Regions from separate parts of the Homo sapiens genome. Here region 2 is linked to region 1. Evidence: fine-mapped expression QTL. A gene starts in region 1. The other region holds a variant in brackets. All regions are shown on one strand. Distances are between the middles of the regions.

The links.
Region 2: its variant is fine-mapped to the expression of NHS in whole blood (TOPMed, PIP above 0.99). The same link has a PIP of 0.9 or more in blood mononuclear cells and monocytes.

Annotation. Positions count from the first base shown.
Region 1 is chrX:17,369,450-17,380,446 of GRCh38, forward strand. It overlaps NHS (NHS actin remodeling regulator), which reads left to right and starts at 5,751. Exons shown (of 9, transcript NM_001291867.2): 1 at 5,751-6,873. The coding sequence starts at 6,309.
Region 2 is chrX:17,523,570-17,534,566 of GRCh38, forward strand. The region is part of intron 1 of NHS (NHS actin remodeling regulator); the gene reads left to right. LOC101928389 (a long non-coding RNA gene) reads left to right here and starts at 4,866. Exons shown (of 2, transcript NR_135631.1): 1 at 4,866-5,189. The variant A/G (reference allele first, on the strand shown) is at 4,798.

The DNA.
Region 1 (10,997 bases):
AACCCAAAGGAAACACGTTGCGCTCTGCATGCCCAGGCGCATAGCTTTTAAATCTTCATAACTCTGTAATTACTACAGTGCTTTCCTTCAAATCTGGCTCAATTTCACTTCCTTAATGAGCACCACAATCTTGATAAAGTTTGAAGTTTGCTGCCTCTGCTGTTCACAAGGACTCAACCCCAGACTGATAATGTGAGTTGTAGATTTTACTCCCTCAAGTTTCTCTCCAAAAGAGCTGATTTATTACAGGACCACCACAGTCAAAAGCAATTCCTCTGAGTCAAGGCCAGCACTGGGTGTTTTCATCACAGAAGGGTGCTTGGGGAGGAAATTCTGAACAGTTAAAAAGTGGGGGGAGCTTATGAACTCCTGGAGAATGGCCGTTTAGCTTTATTAGCACCCTATGCCCTAGAGACTGTGGTTCATCCTACCTAATTGAAGACTTTTCTTCATAGGAAATATATTAAAAATCTTCCACTTCCTCTTTATAAACTGAGCCCTGCCAAAGAGTGAAAATTATAAATCAGCTATTTTTTAAGAGAAAAAAACCAACATAATTTCCACATTATTTCTCCTACCGCCTGGTTTTCAGGGTTTTTAAAAGACTTGTTGGGAATGCCATTTAATGATTATAGTCAAAAGCACATTTTCTCCTGCAGCTGGTTGGAGGGTGTCTTAATTTTAGCCACTGTTTTGTTTTTAACCATGTAGCGCTGCCTCGTCTTGGCTTTGGTCTTTCCGTTTCTAACCTGTGAGAACCAGCGCCGAAGCTTGCGTTGTCTTTAGAATCCCTGCTCCAGTCTATGTTCCCCCAAGACAGTGTTAATCGCTCTGGGATTCTGAATAGCACTTAATTCTTATCTCTATTATAGCTTGCCTGGCGTTGCACTACAATTATTTGTTTACGTGTCTGTCTACCCCACTAGACAACACCCTTTGAGAGCAATGTTTATGTCTTCTTTCCTTTTATATCTCTGGCAGCTCACAGAGGCCTAAGCACCCAATAAATGTTTGCACTCAGTAAATGGAAGCATCCGGTCAATGTTTGTTACATCACCAAAGGAACGAATAAGTGAATGAAACTCCATTGTTGTTTGCTATCACCATCTGCTTTAATTCTGTCAGTTATTTTGAGTTACGTATTTGCAGTTCTGACTAAATCCAGATTTGGCATGTTTAAAATTATATTCAGTTGTAAAATGTGAGGCTAGGATTTTTGAAGATTAGAAAGAAGTAAGAATTTCTCCCACAGGAAACAATGTGAGTAATCAACAGTTCTCTGCAAAGGAAGATAAAAAGGCTGGTTGGCATAGTCTTTGTATTCACAGTCTTTGGCATTTTGGGAAAACCATTTTAATAGCATTATTTTTTCTGCCCATGTTTTCCTATCAATAAAATGCAGAGAGAAACCCCTGTCCTTCACACTTGATAGACTAAATGAAGATTTTTAAGGAAGAAAAGCACAAGCTGAAACAAGGGAAAACCTTCAATGGTAGTATATAGTCTTTTTTCTCCCTCGAAACTATACATATGGTAGTTATCAATATATGTGTAAATATATTTATGTGTATGGTGGATTAATATTTTGATGTATTAATGAATATGTTTCTCTCCCAGTGTTTCATGGGAATACCTGTACACAAAGCCACATTCAAAGTTCCTGAACTGGAAGAACTTGGACTTTAGAGTTGCAAAAAGTAAGCTATGAAGGCTTTGGACATCATAAACCACACATATGGAAGAATGCATGCTTCCTCATTCAAGATGGCATACCACCATGGGCTGTGAACTTCCTCCCATGAGCCAGCAAAACTAAAGGAAAGAGGGATTTGGGGACTCTCAGAGCTCAGCAACTAACATTAAACTTTGCAGAAACTCTTGGAAAGCCTGACAATGGTGGCCTCCTGGTGTGGGAGAGAGAGGAGTGAGTAACATCTTTCTGTGACCCTTCAGTCGGCTATGTGTATGAGCTCTTTCCATATGTTTTAAGGCTCTCTGAAGTTTATCCTTTATTTTTCCCTTAAGGTGTTGTTCTGTACTGTAACTTTATTTGTAAGTGCAGTTTAAGTGTAGTATAGCCATGAGCTCGAAAAAGTTTTCTGCTTCATTGTGAACCACATGACTCTCCAACGATTTCCCAAGAATGACAACCTCACCCTCCTCCACTCCTCACCACCCAATTTCAAATCTGCTCTTCTTCCTTCATGAGATATTATAACATTGCATTTTATGTACAAACTATATTTATTTACTTTCAAATTGTAGCCCTTCACCTATGTAAACTTGCTATAGTTTTCTATCTGTGAAATGGTTTAAGTAACTTAAGTTGGGATGGAATGCTCATAATTTTTTCCAATAAAATTAATGCAAATATTTTTTATTTAACAGGTTTTTACTTAGTGGCAGGACTTTTTAGGAGTAGATTACATTGATTAAATGAGGAATAGGTTCAATTAGGTGGAGGAAAAGACACTTCAGTCACTATAATTCAATGATTATGCTAATGTGCCCCGTGTATCTCCTGGCATTTCTTAGCCAAAAGAAATATTTTCAAGTATAAATAATGGTAGGATATTCAAATCAGAACATTTTTAGCGAAGAGTGTTTTAGGAATCTCTGCTTTGCCGCTTGTGAGGTTCTATAGGAAGCCTGACTAGGGTTCCGTGGAGGCATGAGGACAGCCAGGTTGAGGACAGTGGCGCTTCACGGTGCTCTCAATGCCAATCTTCAAGTTCAGCAAAGCCCTTCTTCCTTCTGGGCTGGAGCAGGCAAGAATGTAACTGTGGGGCGTGGTGACACAGACAGGATCTTTCATTCATTTTACAATGGCATACAGTTTATACTGACTAAACATTTGAATTTATGGGCGAATTGTGCTGGCCTTTGAGCTGCATGAATGACTGCTGGGAATTAGGCGATGGGGCCATTTAAAAATGTTTCCTTTCCCTTCTATTTTGGCTACAAGTGCACGGTAAATAAACATGTGTACATGAATAGTGGGGAGGCGGTGTGATTGGGAGAGATCAACACACACATAACAATCTGGTGTAACAATCAGGTGTAACAACCTGGCTTTAGAAAGCAACCTTGACTTCATCAGAACTTTTTGTGGGAAAATTTGGAGTAAAATGTCACAATTCAGGATTTAAACAAGAAAGACACAGCTCCCACGTATGCTGAAAACTCATCAGCTTAAGACTATTCACATGTCCTGTCAGGATTACATGTGTTGCTACCCTTTTTAAAATTTCAGTATTTTAGTTCTAGAAAGCAGGAATAAAACCCAAAAATGTGTGTAGGGGTGTGTGTGTGGGGGTAATTCACATGGGAGGGACTTGAGTTGGGAAAAGGGTAGGATGGGGCCAGCAGGCTGTCTTGAAGCTGCCTTCCCAAAGCTAGCAGTTTTTTATTTAGATGGTGTCACTAATGTAAAACAATCGTTACATTTTCTAAAGATACCTTTATTCATATCTTACAGAGGACTGGGAAAACATCAACCAACCATATCAATGAATATGATCATTTGTATTAGGTTTGGTTTTGGTGACTTTGAAGGAGGGTGTCTTTCTCCCCAAATAAAACAAAAACAAAAACAAAAACAAAAACAAAAACAAAAACGTAATGTGCTCTTGGAAAGGTCACTGGGGACCACCACCAAAGGAAGGGGAGGGGACAGCGAGAATGAAGGAGATCAAAAGCCAAAATTAAAGGTTTTTAAAATTTTAACCAAAGGGCTTTATTAGCACACAAGTCAGAGTCAAGGAGATTACAAAGAGGGCACTCCTTTTTGCATCCTTGAACTGTGCTTTGAATCATTTTGAAATCTCGGCTTGAATCTGAGCTGATCACTTGGGGGCAGACACTAAGGTAGCTGGCCTGTTTTTTAGCTTAATTACCCCCTTGAACCCTTTCTCTCCTGGGCCTTTGCCCTTCCTTTCTGATCACTTATTTTGGGAGCCCTGGAAGGAACTTGCCAATAATCTGAAACTCCCTTTAGGAGTGAGAGTCCCACACCACTTATTCATTGCCCCTGTCAATGCTCAGATGGGCCCGCTCCACTGGCACCCTTGCTATTAATAGGACAGTGCTAGGTAAGGGAGAGTGAGAGGCAGGGCAGCCTGTTGCCACAAGGCTTGCTAACCAGATGCCTTTAATATCCCTCATTGTTCTCCATGCTTCCATGTGTTTAGGGAGAAGTGTCTGGCTTGCCTACCCAGCAGAACTCATGTTCAGAATTTTGAACGTATTAAAAAGTCAAGCTCAATTTAAAAACAGCTAGCTCAACGCTTTTCAGATTTGTGAGATAAAAAACAAACCTTAAAAGACCTTGTTCCAAAATATTCTTTTCTTTCATTTTTTATTTGGAAACAAAACCAAATTTAAAGTTGCAAGAAATGTACAATGAACCCTGATATGCCCTTAACCTAGACTATTTTGAACATTTTGCCATATTTTGTTTTTTTCTCCCTTCATACATACACATCTTTATTATCATCATTCTTCTTCTTGTTGTTACTGAAACATTTATGTGTACTTTGCAGACATCATGGCCCTTTACCCCCAAAGCCTCAGCCTGGATCTTTTATGAACAAGGATATGTCCTTGCCGAAAATTTTGGTTTTTTTTTGTTTTTTTTTTTTTGTTTTGTAGAATAAGACAAGGGTCTGTTGAAGCCTTTAAAACCAAAGCGTGGGCCAGTCCAAAGTGCTGACTGTTGGAGCCTCCTCCCTCTCCCGCCTTTAGAGGGAGGAGAGGAGACACCACCGCAGGTCTGGAGGACTTTATTGTTGCCATAAAACATATTTTTTCCATGTTCTCTTTAGAAACACGAAAAGAGGCTGCATTCCCAAGATCTGGCTTGTGGCTTTAAAATAAAAAATATTTTTACAGTATACTTTTTGGAGGCATGAAAGCACGTGTTTTATTAACATTTCCCAAACTCTTTTTACTGACGGCATACAGCCTGCAGCCTGCTGCAATCGAAAATGCATGCCTTTTTAGAAATTATACCTTTCAGTTAACTGAAGGGGAAAACTTTCCCTTCTTCTGTAAATCATCATCTCTCTGATGGAGAACTTTAAAAATCCTGTGTATGATCAGCACAGTAGGGTGACGAGGAGGTAATGCCGTTTATCTCACCCAACGTGCAATGAGTTTCGTAAGCAGTTTTCTGGGGATTTTGCTCATTGGTGGTTTGGGTCTCATTCACGATATTCTATAGAGCCCGTGCCCAAAACAGGGGGCCACGTGATGCCTGGGAAGGGGTATAAACAGCACTCTGGCTGCTCTGGCCACATGGAGATGCGCCTACGCCCTTTGCCCTCCCCAGTTGTCTCCTTGCGTTCATAGAGCCCGGGGATCTCCAAGGAGCAGCCCAGTTTTCCCTGTAAGAACCCAAAGGTCTTGTACAGAGCTGGAATTCGGCGAAAAACTTGCTCCAACACGCCAAATCTGCCGCATCCTCAATACCCCACCCTCTTCCCTCTGCGCTTACTGCCCACACCCCTACTCCCAACTTGAGGACTCCCCGCCCCCACCACGCTGACAGTCTCAATTCCAACCCCTTGGATGTGAGGAAGTGTCTTTGCGCCTGAACGCGCCCAGCACGGCGAGGCCACCAGTGACTCCCAGCGGCCGCACAGGGCGCTGCGCCCCCCTCGCCCCGGCCTCCCCCGCCCTGCGTCCGCCCCGTCACCCCCGCGCGGCCTCCTGCGCCCGGGCTGGAGGCAGATTCCTCTCTCCGGGTTTTCAGAGCGCCTTTCCGAAACCTCCTCCCCGCCCAGCCAGGGAGAGAGATCCCGGGCGCAATCGCTCCCCGGAGCGGCCGAGGGGCGCGCGGGGAGAGGCCTGCGCCGGGGTACTTTCAAACTGAGGCGCGCGCACACACTCACACCCACCCACCCACTCACCCACACACACACAGACACACGCACGCCCATTTATATAGGCGGCGGCGACGGCAGTGGCCGGGGTGGCGACGGCGAGCACAGAAACGATGGAGTTGAGCCAGTCGACCCTGGTTGGAAGCAAGTGAGAAGAGACCAGGCGCACCCCTAAATTTCTGTGCGGAGCGCTTGTCATCCTCCCCAGGGAACGGTGCACCCAAAGGAGGACTGGCTGGACTGATTTGCTAGGGAGAGGGCGGGGAAGAGGAGGCAAGGTGAGCAGAGAAGCCCCCTGCGTATCCGGACTGCCAGATCGCGCTTTTGCCGGACTCCTGCCCCCTCCCTGCTCAGGTGGGCGCGCCCGGTCTCCAGCTCACAGGGGCGCTTGGAGGAGACCAGAAAGTCGCCGCCTGGCTGCGCGGGATGCCTTTCGCCAAGCGGATCGTGGAGCCGCAATGGCTGTGCAGGCAGCGGCGCCCTGCGCCCGGCCCAGCAGTGGACGCGAGCGGAGGCAGCGCTGAGCCGCCGCCGCCCTTGCAGCCGCCGGGCCGGAGGGACCTGGACGAGGTCGAGGCGCCAGGGCCAGAGGAGCCAGCCCGCGCCGTCCCTGCACCTTCAGGGCTGCCACCGCCGCCGCCGCCACTGCCCGCGCCGGCCGACCAGACTCAGCCGCCGCACGGAGAGGCGTCCGTGGCTGGCGAGGAGAGCACGGCGGGGATCCCGGAGGCGGCGCCCGCAGCCGGCGAGGCGTCCTCGGCGGCGGCGGCGGCGGCCGTGCTGCTCATGCTGGACCTATGCGCGGTCAGCAACGCCGCTCTGGCCCGTGTCCTCCGGCAGCTCTCGGACGTGGCCCGGCACGCTTGCAGCCTCTTCCAGGAGCTCGAGAGCGACATCCAGCTCACCCACCGCCGCGTCTGGGCGCTGCAGGGCAAGCTCGGCGGCGTGCAGCGCGTCCTCAGCACGCTTGACCCTAAGCAGGAGGCAGTGCGTGAGTACCCGCGCCGTCCGCCCGCCAGGCTATGGGTTTCTGCGCCGCACCCTCGCGCCCTCCCCAGCAGCGGCAATCCCAGCCCCGCGGCGCCGCTCCGGTTGCAGCTTGCACCTTACTACTCTCGCCTTCCCACCCTTCCCATCCCCTGGGACCCACCCCAATCCTCCTGGGGCTGAGTGGCTGGGCTGGACCCCGATTCAGTGATGCAGACGTGGACGGTGGAAAGTTAAAAGGGCGACCTCTGAAGTCGCAGGCAGCGTGGGCTGAGAAGGAGCAGAAAGGGAGCGTTTATGGGGAGCACAGGAGGCAGAGAGGGTCTGTCCTTCACCACCGGGGCTCGCCTTTCACGTCCTTCACGGGGCGTAGGGAGGAGGGTTGCAACTCCTGTGGTTTCCAGAAGCCCAGCCCTGAGCCCTGTAGCCCACACCATGCATGTTCAGGGTTGGGGGTTCCAGGAGTAGTGAGTGTTCTTTTGAGACTGCTGCAGCACCGCGGCTGTTTCGTCACTCGCTGTGACCTCAGGTGCTGCCCCGAGCTCCGAACTTGTGCCTTGCCCTCGTGTGCGACGTAGCGTGGCGCTGCTCGCCTCCTAGACTGAACTTCGTAGTGCTTCTGCCGAAAACCCTTGTGGCCCGGAGGGGCCGCGGGGAGGGTCAGGGAGAGATGAGGGTGGGAGTGTCAGGGGCCCCGGGGAGATGGAGGAGACCCCTGGGCATCTTTTCTGCTCTGAACAGCCCAGGGTTCCTACTAAATGGCTCTGTGCCATCTGCCCGCAGAGGATCCCACAGACTATCTTCCTCCTCCCCGGTGCACTGTCGCCCAAATTTACTGGCACGTGGACTTAGGTATGAACTAGTCTGCTAGGCGGGCTGCAGGGAAACGACGAGGAAGGAAGTCTGGGAGACCCCTGGGCGTCTTTGCTGTCCGTTGACTTCGCTTTTACGACACCCAAGGGCTCCCAATAAATAGTCATTCTATGTCATCTCCCTTCCAAGGGCGGTCCCCTTGGCTCCGGATCGTCCAAATCTGGCGACGGCAGAATCATTTAGGAACGACCCAGGAGGTAGACAGGGGCGCTGGGTTGGCGCGACGGTCCTTTGGCGCCTAGTCAGGCTGCGACGCTCGCGGCGAAGGTGATGTCAGCGGCTCTGACTTACGTAAGAAGCTTCCTAGGTTGCTGCCGCAGCTGCGCCGGTGCGCAGTGGCCTAGGAGCGCGCGGGGCGGAGGCGCTTTGGAGGCATCCTTCCCTGGGGATTTCCGGGCACCTCTGCCCCACAGCCCAGCTCAGCCTCCCAGCGGTCCCTGCCCGCCCGCGTGTTCTCTCCCTCTTCCCCTCCTCCTCCGAAAAACCCTTTGAACCCCGTCCCGGGAATTCACTGCTTTTCTGCAATAACAATAGTAATAAGCGTAATGAATAAATGATGTGCTCGATCGGTTTTCGCAGCTATAAAAGACCCGGAGTTGGGTTAATGACTGGTTGTTTAAAAGGGCAATTCCGGGGATGAGTTCTGGAAAGAATTAGGACTGCCGTAGGCCAAGTCGTATTTTACTTTTGGGACTTGAAATGAGCGCTTTAATCCTGCCTCCTTTTTACCCCAAACCACACAGCAGGGACAGGCCCTTCACTTTCAACAGCGCAGGTATCTGGGGAGTGCGGTTGTGGGAGTGGTGATTTCACTTCAAAAGAACTGGAGGGAAGTTTTGCAGACTGTTGAGTGGTGCATACATTTCCCGTGTGTGTGTGTGTGTGTGTGTGTGTGAGACACACCTCTCCTTAAGTTAGATTTCACGCGAATGAAACTCACTGCCAGAGCAGAATGTGCCCACTTCTTTCTCTCTTTAGATGCAGCAGTGGGCAGTTATGTACCTGGAACGTGTCAGAGTTCTTTCAAGTCCTTTTAACTGTTTGGGGTACAAACTAATAGTTAGTAGAGATAAGAGAGGATCTTGAGTGTGTGCATATAGTTGGTGAATATATACTCTATACATATTTGTACATGAATAATAAAGATGGGGCTGATTTCTACCTGGGATAGATTTAAAATCTCATATTATTTTAAATTTTATTTTCTAAAATGCTATCTCCACACTTTATGTCCAGATCTCTCTCTTCTCTTGTTCATTTAAATTTGGGATGGCATTGTTTTTGTTTGATGTCATAAAAGGCATTACCTTTGGGAGAAAAAACACACTATTATGTGTCTTGGTTTAGGTTTCCTAGAATGCAGAGCCTGAGACAAGGATTTCGATGCAATTAACTTATTTGGGAAGGGTTCCCTGGAAGCACAGAGAGGGGGTAGGGAAGTGAGACAGGAAAGGGAGGAAAGAGGAAAGCCAGTACACCATGTAAGCTGGTTAGCCCTGTGGGCAACTGGGGTTCAATCCAGCTGGCGACCCTCTGAGCACACACCTCAAATGTGTTCCACTAATGATTAAAGAAGCTGGAGTATTTATGCACCAGCTTCTTCTTCCCACAGATGGAAGGTAGCACCTGGAGCATGAACTCCATGGCTTCTGGGTCTTGCCCCACATGTAGTCCCAGCATGCACCCAGGGCCAGGTAGAGAGATGCAAAAAGCCTATGATGTGCACAGGAATGTTGACAGAGGTCCTCTGGGGAGGGCAAAGTAGCTGTGGGTCGGTCACTAGCGGCATCAGCTGCATTATGCATCTATCTCCCTTTAGTATTGCTCAGGCCTAGGGGAGTTTGAAAGGGAGAGGAAGCCTAAAAGTAAAACTTACTCTTTTTTCTCTTCCTTTGAGAGTGCCTTCACACCACCTGTATATCCTTGTCACCTGATCCTCATTCCCCTGCGTAATCTGCTTGCTATTTCATCCTTGGACAGCTGCTTCCTGTTGCCCTGAGACAGGCTGGGGGGCTTCTTGCAGGGGCAACATGATCTGATGTACACTTTGGAAGAGTCACTCTGGAAGCAAGTCTGGTGGCTAGTAAACCAGTTAGACACTGTGACTGGTGATGGTGGCTAGGACTAGGGAGGTAGCTGTAGAGACGGTGAGAAGTGGTTAGATTCTGAATGCATTTTGGAAATAGGATTGCCAAGACTTAACTGATTTGATTGGGTACAGGTTGTGGAAAAAAAAAATAATTTAGGATGACTCCTAGTTTGTTGTTTTTGCTTGAAAAGCTTAAATAACTTGTAGACTGTGGCTGGGCACGGTGGCTCACGCCTGTAATCCCAGCACTTTGGGAGGCCGAGGCGGGCAGATCGCCTGAGGTCAGGAGTTCGAGACCAGCCTGGCCAACATGGTGAAACCCCGTCTCTACTAAAAATACAAAAATTAGCCAGGCGTGGTGGCAGGCGCCTGTAATCCCAGCTACTTGGGAGGCTGAGGCAGGAGAAATGCTTGGATCCGGGAGGCAGAGGTTGCAGTTAGCCAAGATCGCGCCATTGCACTCCAGCGTGGGCAACAAGAGTGAGACTTCATCTCAAAATAATAGTAATAATAATAACTGGTAGAATGTATTACCATTTGTAGAAATGGGGAAGGCTAGTGGGAGAGTGAATATTTTCTTGTGGAGGGAATGGAATCAATAGTTTTATATTTGAGCCATGTTAAGTTTGAGATACCTGATGTGTCTTACATAATTACATGTGTGAGTTGAGAGGTCCAGGCTGGAGATGTGAATGTGAGACCTAAGCGTAGAGACAGTTTGTGAAGCCTTGGAGCTAGACACAGTGAAGCTAGTAAAGAAAAGGAGGCCAGGACTTAGCCCAGGGCAGTCCAACTTTGAAAGCTTCACAGGGAAGGAGAAAGGCTGAGAAAGGACAGCCAGAAAGCTAGAAGGAGAATCAGAAGAGTGTAGTATGGTGCAAGCCAGGAGATGTTTCCAGAACTGGGGAGAAGTCAACTTGGTCAAGTGCTTCTGAGAGGAAGATAAGCACTGAGAAGAGGCTATTGAGTTTGGTTACTTGTAATTAATTAGTGGCCTTGAGAGGTGCCATTTCATTGGAGGGGTGGAGATGAACGCCAAATCAGAGGTGTTGGAGAAAGAATAGGAGAGGTGGAGAGGAAATAGCAACTACAGAGAGCTTTTTTTTTTTTTTTCACTCTATCACCCAGACTGGGTACAGTGACTTGATCATGACTCACTGCAGCCT
Region 2 (10,997 bases), 150 kb after region 1:
GTAGTGGGGGCAGTCTCCCCAGATGAGCTGACCTCAATGGATCTCTACACAGAAGAGGGAAAACAGATAGGGCGGCATCCAGTAAATACCCCAAAAGCTCATCTTGGAACCTGTGAGTCCCTGCTTGTGTTTCTTGGCTTCCCAGGTCCCTCACACCTCAATAAAAGCCCAGTCTTGTCTTTCTCTCCCAACAGTGCCGGCAAAAGAAATAAGACCTCCAACCACCACAGTGGAAAACCTGCAGGAAGAAAATGTTCATAAAGAGTTGAACCATGGCCCGAAGTGGTTTTGGTTTTCTTTCAAGGCCTGCAGCATCCTGGAGTGCCAGGGGCCTGTGGTCACAAAAGCTTCATCTCAAAAGAAGCTAAGAGGGGGTCCATTCTGGGGAATACTCTGGACAGTGCTATGAAGGGCAGCTGGGAAGAGAGCTGGCTCTCTGCTGCATATTGACTACTCGGGGGTACAATTTTGTCTTGCCCTTACCCTTATCCACCCATAGCAAGCTCCGCATTTGGTGATGTTTGCTTGTTTCACTTTTTATTTTGAAATAATTAAAACTTACAGGACAGGTGCAAGAATAGTGTAAATAACTCTTGTATACCTTTATCTAGATTCACTAATTGTTCATATTTTGTTGCATTTATCCCTTCTCTCCCCCACACTAATTCATGTTCATATATATGTGAATTTTTTTGCTGAACCATTTAGGAGTAGGCAGCTGTCATCAAACTCCCTTTACCCCTTGCATTTCCCAAGAATGAGAATATTCTCTTGTATATGTACAGCTATCAAATTTAGAAAATATAATATTTATTTCATACTTTTATGTAACCTGTGTCCCAATAATGCCCTTTATCACAATTTTCTTAAGGTTCACAATCTAGTCCTGGATCCCACATTGCATTTAGTTGTCCTGTCTCTTTTGTCCCCGTTAATCAAGAACAGTTCATAACTCTTCCTTTGTCTTCAGTGGCCTTGACATTTTTGAAGAATACCAGCCAGTTGTTTTATAGAATGTTCCTTAATTTTGGTTTCTCTGATGTTTCTTCACATTTACATTTGGATTTAGGCATTTTTCAGTTGGAATGCTATATAGGCATGTAAGTGATTTGTTCTCTGGGGACCATATCAGGAGGCACAGATGTCCATTTGGCCCTTGTTGGTGAGGTCACATTTGATTAGTTAAGCTGGTGTCTGTGTAGCTGTTCTTTTTCCTTTTGTAATGAACAAATATAATTTGTTGGAAGATATTTTGACATTATGTAAATATCCCATTCCTCATCAAACTCTCTCCACCTAGCTTTAGCATTCATTGAGGATTCTTGCCTGGATAATGATTTACTCTAATGGTTTCATCCATCATCCCTTCTATATTTGTTAGTCCAAAATAGTCTTTGATTGGGTGGGAAGGCATACTAAGCCTGCCGATCTTAGTAGCTGAGCTCACAGGGAGGAAGGGCCTTGATTTCCTCCTTGGACTCTGACTGACAGCTCTTTTGAAGCAGTCCTGTTCTGTTGGGTGTATGTTTTGACACATGTAGTAACTCATTTTGGAAATACTTATTTTTTACTAGATAACTTTCAAATAAGTTTTTAAATACTTTACAAAAAAATGGTAGGATGTTGGTTGCATATGTTATCATTTATTTTTGTGGCATCTGCTGGAAAATTGCACCTGGTTCTTTTACACAGTGTTGATCAACAGAAACCTGATCATGATGATAGCAATAATAATATCTTCTCACCATCTGAACCCTGCTCCAGAGAAAGGGATGAAATTAGAGAGATTGTTTGAATTCTGAGAAGGATGGTTGGACTAAAAAGGAAAACCAGCTATTGGAAGCAGATGAATTAAGTAAAACATGAATTTCCAGGAATGTTTCAAAATACTTGTGTGGGAGTTCTTTTTGGAATGTTAAAGCAGTGAATGGCATTGCTTGGAATTTTGTTTTTTTCTTTATTGATTTTGGTTCAAAACGAATCCTTAATCAGTTTCTAGCCAGTTCATTTTTGTCTATTTTTTGCAGCAATTTACTGTTTTGTTTTTGTTTTCTTTTTTCTTTCTTTTCTTTTTTTTTTTTTTTTTTTTTACTACAGTGGAAGGGGTTTTTATGGGAGAAACCTCTGATTATTGTTTTAGTGGGCCTAGAATATTAAGTTCTTGGTTTTGATTTTTGTCTTTTTAAATAGCTCTTTATAGCCCATAGTAAGAACAAAGGACTAATGGGGGATGTTTGGGAGGTTTCTCAGCTCTTATATGTTGTTATAACACTGGTTGTTACAGTTGCCATTAAGGTTAATGTTTTCAGAACAGCACCAAAAGCTATAAGCGGACATGAAGGAAAAGCAGCTGTTTTTCATAAAACTTACAGATGAACCAATGCTAGTTACTCCTGTGATGAGTGATCTAGAGCAGCCTTTCCCTAGTGTGTGTGTTCCTTGGAATGTGCATGTGTGTATACACACAGAAGAGAGAAAAGGGAGAGTTAAGTTCATGGTCAAAGAAGTTTCAAAAACATTGCATATTGTAACTCCATATTGGAGAATCACAAGGTTAAAAGAGTATAGTTAATGCTTTGAATGTTACACCTTTGCTAGAAAACAAACTACCCCAAAATTTAGTGGCGCTGAACAACAAACATATATCTTAGTCTGTGGTTGAGCTCAGTGGTTGTTCCAGTCTGGGCTAGGCCAGGCCAGGTGGTTGTAGCTGGGCTAGCGCATGTGTCCACAATCAGTGATAGGTCAGCTGAGGCCTAGCTGATCTAGATTGGCCTCATCTGGGATGTTCCCCCTGGCAGTGTCCTCTTATCGTCTAGCAGGCCAGCCTGGGCTTGTTCATATGGTGATCACGGAATTCTGAGCATGCGAGCAGAAGTGCGCAAGGCCTTTCGAGATCCAGGCTTGGAACTCAGACAGTGCCACTTCTGAATTGCATTGGCCAAAGCAAGTCACAGAACCAAACCCAGATTCAAGGGTTTGAGAAATAGACTCCACCTCTCGATGGGAGGGCTTACAAGGTCTCATTGCAAATGGATGGGGAGATACCGAAAGGGGAATGATTGCAGCCATTTTGACAATCTAGCAGAGAGATCAACTAATACGTGACTGGCTATTATTTCTATGCGCATTTCTGGGTTTGGGAGAATTTGTAGGGGAGGAGGAAAAGAGATACAGATCATTTATAATTGCAGAAAGTAAAAATAAGACTTCAGTTGAGATTTAATGAGCTAATCTATTTCAAGTGCTTTGAACTCGCATGTAGTAAGAGCTCTATAAATGTTGCTGTTATTATTATCATGAATGCATATGTCACTTGAGGTCCTCAACCTCACTTAGAAGTGAAGCAGGAAGATTCATTTGACAACAAAATGAACAAAACTTCAGATACTTGTGCAAAACATATAATCAAGTGAAGGAATTTAAATAAAATACCCCCAGCAAAAATAGTCTGGAGCACAGAACAGACATTTTCCTCTGGGGGTTGAAGGTGGGAAGATGTGTCCAGTTTTGCCTTCTGTGACCAGTTCACCCTGTTGGGCTTGTTTCCAAGGTAAGGTCAGAGCTTGCCGGGTTCTTGCTAAACTGGAGTCTGTAATAAAGAGGGTACCCAGGTGTGAAGAGTTTTATGTTCTCAGGACTTGTTCTTTGTTTATTTAGTTAGCCTTTATTAAGTGCATTGGAGCCTTGGAGGGCTCTGCAGTGGCTTTTGTTGCATGATAAAGGTGGCACATAGCTTTTCTTTGGCTGACTTGGGCTCCCAAGTGAAAAAGGCAGAGAGGGCCCTGCCAGCTTCCCTGGCTCTGCCCCTTCAGGGCATTTCAGGGAGCAGTCCAGTGACTGACGCCAAATGCCCTTGAGCACTGTGCCAGCCCTCTTGACTGGAAGCTGGGGAAGGAAACTTTCTCAGGCCCTCTCTCTCTTTGCTTCTATTTCCCCTTTCATTTTGTGGTCTGAGCAGCCCCCGCCCCTCCTTGCGTAAACCCCTCTGCAGTTAGCATCAACAAATCCCAAGTTGTTTGTATGTGTGTCTAAAAGAAAAATTCTCTGAGGATTAGAAGCAGACACAATAGAGGGAGTGCTCCCTTTTGCTTTAATCACTTCAGGCTCCTACGTGTTGACAGGAAGTTTTGTTAGTATCCAAGTTTAAGGAAAGGAGCATTCAGGGGTGGCATTTTTTTTCCTGCGTTGAATTCTTAAAGTAAGTTTGATAAGATATCTGGTAAACTACAAGCCGCTCCCTTTTTAAATAGGCTTCACTGCCCCCTTGGCCTGCCTGTAAAAGCGCTGCTCCCTTCAAAGGGACCCATAATCACGCCGAGTCTGTGGGTTGCACGACTATACCCACTGTCTTATCTGCAAGTTGAGTTTGATCTTCCTGGCTGAAACCTGTGAGATGTTCCTTTATGTCTCCACATTCTTTTCTTCCCTTTCTGCTCCCAACCCCACCCCCAAATTAATTGGTGTCTGGTGACTTTTTCTACCGCTTCCTCTTGTTTTCTGTGGCTTTTGTCTAGGGCAGTGGGGGAGGGTGATTCTTCCCTCACCCCCAGGGGACATGTGGCAATGTCTGGAGACATTTTTGGTTGCCACAACTGGAGAAAAGGGGCATCTGGTGAGGAGAAGTGAAGGATGCTGCTAAACCTCCTACAATGCACAGTGCAGCCCCCACAGCAGAGAATGATCCAGCCTCAAATGTCACCAGTGCCACCACAAGGAGCCCCTGATCTAGCAGGTTGCTTTCTGGTAGGGTGCTCCTGCTTCTGATATGGCTCCTCCCTCTCTCTCTTCTTCCTC[A/G]AGAGGACTGTTCTTGTGTCTAGTATTGGTTACATCACCCCTGCCCTTAAATAACTAAACTCACAGAAGGAGAAAATTTTTCCTTAAGGATGCTACTGACTCTGGAATCCTTGAGTTACATGTGAATAACTGGGTCGTGCATGTCAGCATTAAGAAATAATCACAGAACTCCTGATTCTGGTTTGCTCTGGGTGGCAGCTGTGCTGGGTTTACCAATGGAGGAACTTCATGGCTGCTCATCTTTGACTCTTTTTCTGAGGAACCAAATCTCTCTGGGAGTGCTGGCTAACTCACCCCTTCTTCAAACACGCTGTGTGGCTTCAGGATATGGCTGCTGGCTTTAAAAAAGAAGGAAAAATAAATTAAGACACCCACACTGCAAGACAACCCCTGTGAGTATATGTTATACTGGGAATGCCCCATTTCTCAAATATTTATAAATATATGGTCTCTTGGAGTGTTCTAGGTCTGTCATTTGGGAAGGTTAGACAGCCCTGGGCCACTATCCTTTTTCGTAAGCACAGGGCACTTTCACAAATACCAGATTGACAGCTGGGTGATGCCAAGGGAATGGTGATGTGTTGCCCTGTGTATATCTGGGATGTGTTAGACATCCCTCCCTTCCTTCTTTTTCTTTGTTTTCCCTCCCTCCTTCCCTTCTTCCCTTCCTTCTTTCTTTTTTCTTCCTCCCTCCTTCCCTTCTTCCCCTCCTTTCTTTCCAAGCACATCAGTGAGAATGTAGCACAGCTTGGTTTTCTGAAGTCCGTCAACTACTGTGTACTGCTTGTCAAGAAGGGTGCTATATAAGCTGAAATGCTGCTCTAAATTTCACATTATCCCTTCCTGCTGCTCATTGAGTTATTTAATTAGAAGCTGCCATATTTTCTAGGGAAAACACTTTGAACAGAAGGCCTGATTTCACTGAGAATGGATGCCTTTATTATGTGTCAAGGAGCTAAAAATTGCTAGTAAGATGTCAGTGTGTATATGTATATGAAATACAGAAAAGTGCATGTACATATATGAAGAGCAATCAAAAGAGAAATGCGAAGGGGTTGGAAAATGAAGAGGTGTCAGATCCAGTCGATGATTTGGTTCCTGCTCAGGAGTGTGTAAGCTTCAGTTGGCTCCAGTTTGGCTAACACTGCAATGCCTTTAGTGTCACTGAAGCCGACAAAGAAAGCTGACGCGTTGTTTTTCTAGGGGGAAAAAAAATGCTCTCCTTCCACATTCCCAGTGCAGACAACAGCAGAAAACAGAAATGAGACCGTACTGCCCAGAGTCCACACAGACTCCAACTCAAAGTCTTTGAATTATGTATTCAATTCTTGCCACTTTGCACATTTTCCCTTAAAGAAAAGAGAAAAAAATCAGTTCATAGTAGCTCTTAAAAAGCATGGAGGGGCATTCAGGATTCAATTCATCCTGAGAGGCAGATTTTAAGTTTCATTCTTAGAAGGAGATTTCGTGTTTAGGGTATGACAGTGTGGAGTTCATAGGAAGGGATGTCAGCTAAAACCAACTGCATCCTGTCTTTTGAGTTTGTTTTACCTTTGGTGTCCCCTGTTGACATGTGCCTTTCACTTCGCTTGGAGACTCTCTGGATGTGCAGGCTGCTTCATGTCCTTTAGGCTCTTCTGTGGCAGCCAAGGGGGTTTCCTTTTTTCTTCCCTCTATTTCTGGGCCACAGAGAGGAAAGAACAAAGATGCTTTCCCTGCACTGACTCCAAGTTGAAGCTAGTCAAACTCCCCTCTGAAAGGGGTTAATCATTTTAAAATAGCTCGAGAATAACTTGAAAGTGACTTTCAGTGAACGTGTCCAGAGATCTCTGGATTTAAATCCCCTCCCCTCCTCTCCCTCTCCAGCCAGGTCACCGGATGGGAATGGCTTATTTCTATCTGCCATTAGGTTTTTCAGCCCTGCCGAGAGAGACGCCAGTGCTGGACTTTAATGTGGAGGAAATTCAGTTAAGGAGCATGACATTTCTCAGGTTTCTGGAGAGATGGATGTTTTGGCTTATGTTGAGTGCTACCGACCCCATTTGTCACCAGCAAGCAGGTGGATAGTCCCTTAACCTCTCAGAATGGGGTGAAGGGATGATTTGGACCCTTGCTACTCAAAGTGTGGTCCTTGGACTAGCAGTATCGTCTCCCCTGGGAGCTGGTTAGAGATGCAGAATCAGGGCTCCACTGCTGACCGACTGAATCTGAATTTGCTGTTTAACATGATCCCCAGGTGATTCAGACGCACATTAATGTTTCAGAAGCGCTGGTCCAGGGCAGTGGTTATCAAATTTGAGCATATATTGGAATTTGTTTCAACAATCCTATTAAAACACAGATTGCTCAGCCTTACTCTCAGAGTTTTGAATCTATCAGGTTTGGGTCAGGGCCAGAGAATCTGCATTTCATCCTTTTTTCTTTTTTTTTCAGACAAGGTCTCACTCTGCCGCCCAGGTTTGGGTACCGTGGCACAATCATAGCTCACTGCAGCCTCAAATTCCTAGGCTGGTCTTGAACTGCTGGCCTCAAGTGATTCCCCTGCCTCAACCTCCCAAAGTGCTGGAATTTCAGGCGGGAGCCACCCTGCCAGCCAAATCTGCATTTCAAACAGGTTCCCTGGTGATGCCCATGCTTCTGGTGAGGTGGAGGAGCACACATTGGGAATAGCTGCTCTCGAGGAACCCTGGCCCTTCTGGCAGCCTTTATTTCTCTCTCCATGGAAACCCTCGCACCAGCCAGGCTACCCTTGCCCCCTGCCTCATGCTTTTAATTCCCTTCCCCTTCCTCCTTTTGGAGAGGCCAGTACCTCCCCCTTATAAACCTCCCCCATTTCCTAGCTGTGAATCCAAACCCACACTTTCCTTTCCTGGCCACTCTGAGCTTTCTCATCCCCCTTCAGTGGCCCCCCAGTTCTTCCCCTGGTGCCCCAGCCTTCCCAGTTAGATTGCAAGCTGGAAGTGGGCCTCCCCCTCCCTCACTGTCCCCCTAATCCATCACCAGGATCATTCATTTCACTGCCCAGTGTCTCTCAGATCCCTCTTCTGCCCTCTACCCTAACTACCACCCCTGTGGTCTAAGCCCCATCTTCTCCTGCAGCTGTCTTTGGAGGTCTCCTTGTAGCCTCTCTTGCATTTGTCCAGTCTCTTTTCTACTATCAAGTCCAAGTGACCTATTCAAAGTTTCCCGCACCATTATTCCCCCCTCCTCCTCTGCCACTGCTTCAGCTCTTTCTGTGACACCATTGGTCGTAGCCTACAATCCTGAGCATGGCCCTGAAGGCCTCTAGGGTGGGCCCTGGCTATGCTTCTGTCTTTCTCTCTGCTGCCCTCCCTTGGCTTTGTGCTGCAGCCACGCTGGCCTATTTTCAGGCCCCCACAGGGCCTTTGCACAAGCTGAGGTGCTTTCTCCAGCCCCACCTCACCTGCTTAGTGCCTCAGCATCCTGCCAATGGCCCCTCAAGCTTCCCCAGGGAGGCTTTCTCTGACCTTCTCCAGCCAGTGAGATTCCTTTGTTGTTGACCCTCCTTCTTATCCTCATAGTGCTTTTTGCCCTATGCAGTTATATATCCAAAGTGTGACAATTGGATTAATGCGTGTCTCTCCTGCTAGACTGTAAGTTTCATGGAGTGAGGACCCATTCATTTGTGTTGATTCTTGTCTCCCCAGGAGCTGGTATCTAGAATGCACCCAACAAATATTTGTTGGTGAAGCCAGTGGGATCCTTTGCAGCTCCATGCAGTGGTTCACACCCCACATAGACTCCTAAAATATGACACTGGAAAATGAAAACTTTTTAAAATTGTTTTAAATATATAAGAATTCAGCTCTGAATGTCTAGATAATTGGTAGCATGAATTGGCCCTCGAGGTCAGGAAGACTTCTTTGCTCTGGTTTTAATTAGTGCAAAGCGGAAGCCATTTCTATGTAAATGAATCAATCCATCGAGGCACACTTCTTTAGCCCTGATTATATGCCAGGCACTGGACCGGAGCCCCAGGAAACAAAGATGAATGATATAGTCCCTGCCCTTGAAGGGAGGAAAAGCAGATGGCTGGTCCCTGGAGACCTTCCTAGCAGTAAAGAATTCAGTAACAGTATGGACGATGGCACCAGAAGTGTGCCTTGAGTTTCGTATCAACCTCAGTGCTCCCCTCACTGTGCATTTGAAGGCTTCCTCCTTTACAAAGACAAGAGCAAATTCAGAGAGCCTGAGACGTCACCATGAGATATGGTCTATAGAATGTCTCCCAGGAAGGGATGAGATCTTGGCCCTTCAGTGAAAATGCCAACATTATTGGAAGAAAGCCCAGACCAAGGCAGGGGCTAGGGCTGGGGTTCTGGAGTAAACTAACTGGCATATAATCAGGGCTAAAGAAGTGTGCCTCGATGGATTGATTCATTTACATAGAAATGGCTTCCGCTTTGCACTAACCTGGGTTCAAACCCTGGCCCGGCCACTTACTGGTGGGCAACTTGGGCCCTTTTCTTAACTTATCTGAGCCTTAGTTTCTCATCTATGAAATGGGTATAATAGCTTCTACCAGTAGAGCCATGGGGAGGAATAAATAAAATCCTGAGTGTGAGGCATTCAGCACAATGCCTGTAGTATAGAGATGCTGAATCTATTGTTATGATGAGTATTAGCTCTGCAGAGCAGGGCCTACCAAAGACCTACGTGGATTTTTCTATAATGAACAACAACCATCACCAGAAAAGGCCAGTAAGTTGCTGGCAAGTGTCTGCCCCGCCCACCACACAGGAGTGTGGGGGCAGCAAAGACATGGGAGAGGGCCAAAGCTCTTAGAGAAGTGAAAGTCATTGGCATGGCTCTATATGGAATCGTCTCCAGTGTGTGAGTCTGTGTGCTTAAGTCCTTTACAGATTTTTCGGCAACCTTTTTTTGTAAGGTTGCTCGTTGATTTTTATTTTTTTGAGTGAGACAGGGTTTTGCTCTGTCACCCAGGCTGGAGTGCGATGACACGATCATGGCTCACTGTAGCCTCGACCTCCCAGGCTCAAGTGATCCTCCTGCCTCAGCCTCCCAAGTAGCTGGGATTACAGGCATGCACCACCACGCCTGGCTAATTTTTGTATTTTTTCTATAGAGACAGGGTCTCTGTATGTTACCCAGGTCTTGAACTCCGGAGCTCAAGCAGTCCACCTGCCTCTGCTTCTCAAAGTGCTGGGATTACAGGTGTGAACCACTGGCCCTGGCCTTGTTGACTTTTAAAATTATGACTTTTAAAGCAATCAGGGAATAATCACTTTCAAGTACTGAGCACAAAGTGATGACTCCTGCTAGGAAGATGGACAGGGCTGGGGTCATAGGCATGGTCTTGGGTCTTGGAGAACTGAGTTTGCTTCCTGACACAGCCCTTTGGGTCCCATGACCTTGGGCAGCCCCCACAGCCTCTCTAAGTCTTGCTTTCATGGCCTGCACTATGAGGTTAATAGTAATGCCTATTCTGAGGGCTGTTTTGAAGATTACATGACATAAATACAGAAATGTCTAACACTATGTCCAATAAATTGTTGTTTCTCTTCTCTTGCCATTAATATGCACTTTTCTTGAGCAAAAGTCTTGTCAGCACTTAACAGAATTAATTACAAAACCTAATTAAGGGAGTCTATAAGTGTGATATTTTACTGTTTTCTCCCTTTTGATGATGAGTTCTCTAACCTACTGAGAGGAAGAAAGCCTTCTTCGGACTGTTGCCTGAAAGGTCATTGTGTGTGTGTGTGTGTGTGTGTGTGCATACACACGTGTGTCTACTCTCACATTAACACACTTTGCCCAGGATGCATTCATGATGCCCTGGCAGCCAGTGGGTCTTTGGAAGGAATTCATAGGATTGAGACTATGAGTTGATTTCATGAGCAGAAAATTGTATATTTTGATGAGAGAACATTAGAGAATGCCTCCTGAAGAAGAAGGTCACAAGGAGGCCAGTGTGGTTAGCGATGCCTGGGACATTGATTTTGGGAAGTAATGCCATGTTTTTCTTCCCCCAGGCCTATAGCTACCTTTGCTTAGCCAGCACACGCCCTCATGTTGGAGACCTAGGTGGCTCTTGGTGGATTTTTGTGTTGCTGTAGCTTTCCTGTTTTGAAAGTTAGGGACAAGAGCTCAGAAAGCAGCAATGTCTTCAAAGAGAGAAGTTAAAATTCTAGTTATGACTCTAATGACTCTAGTGGCCC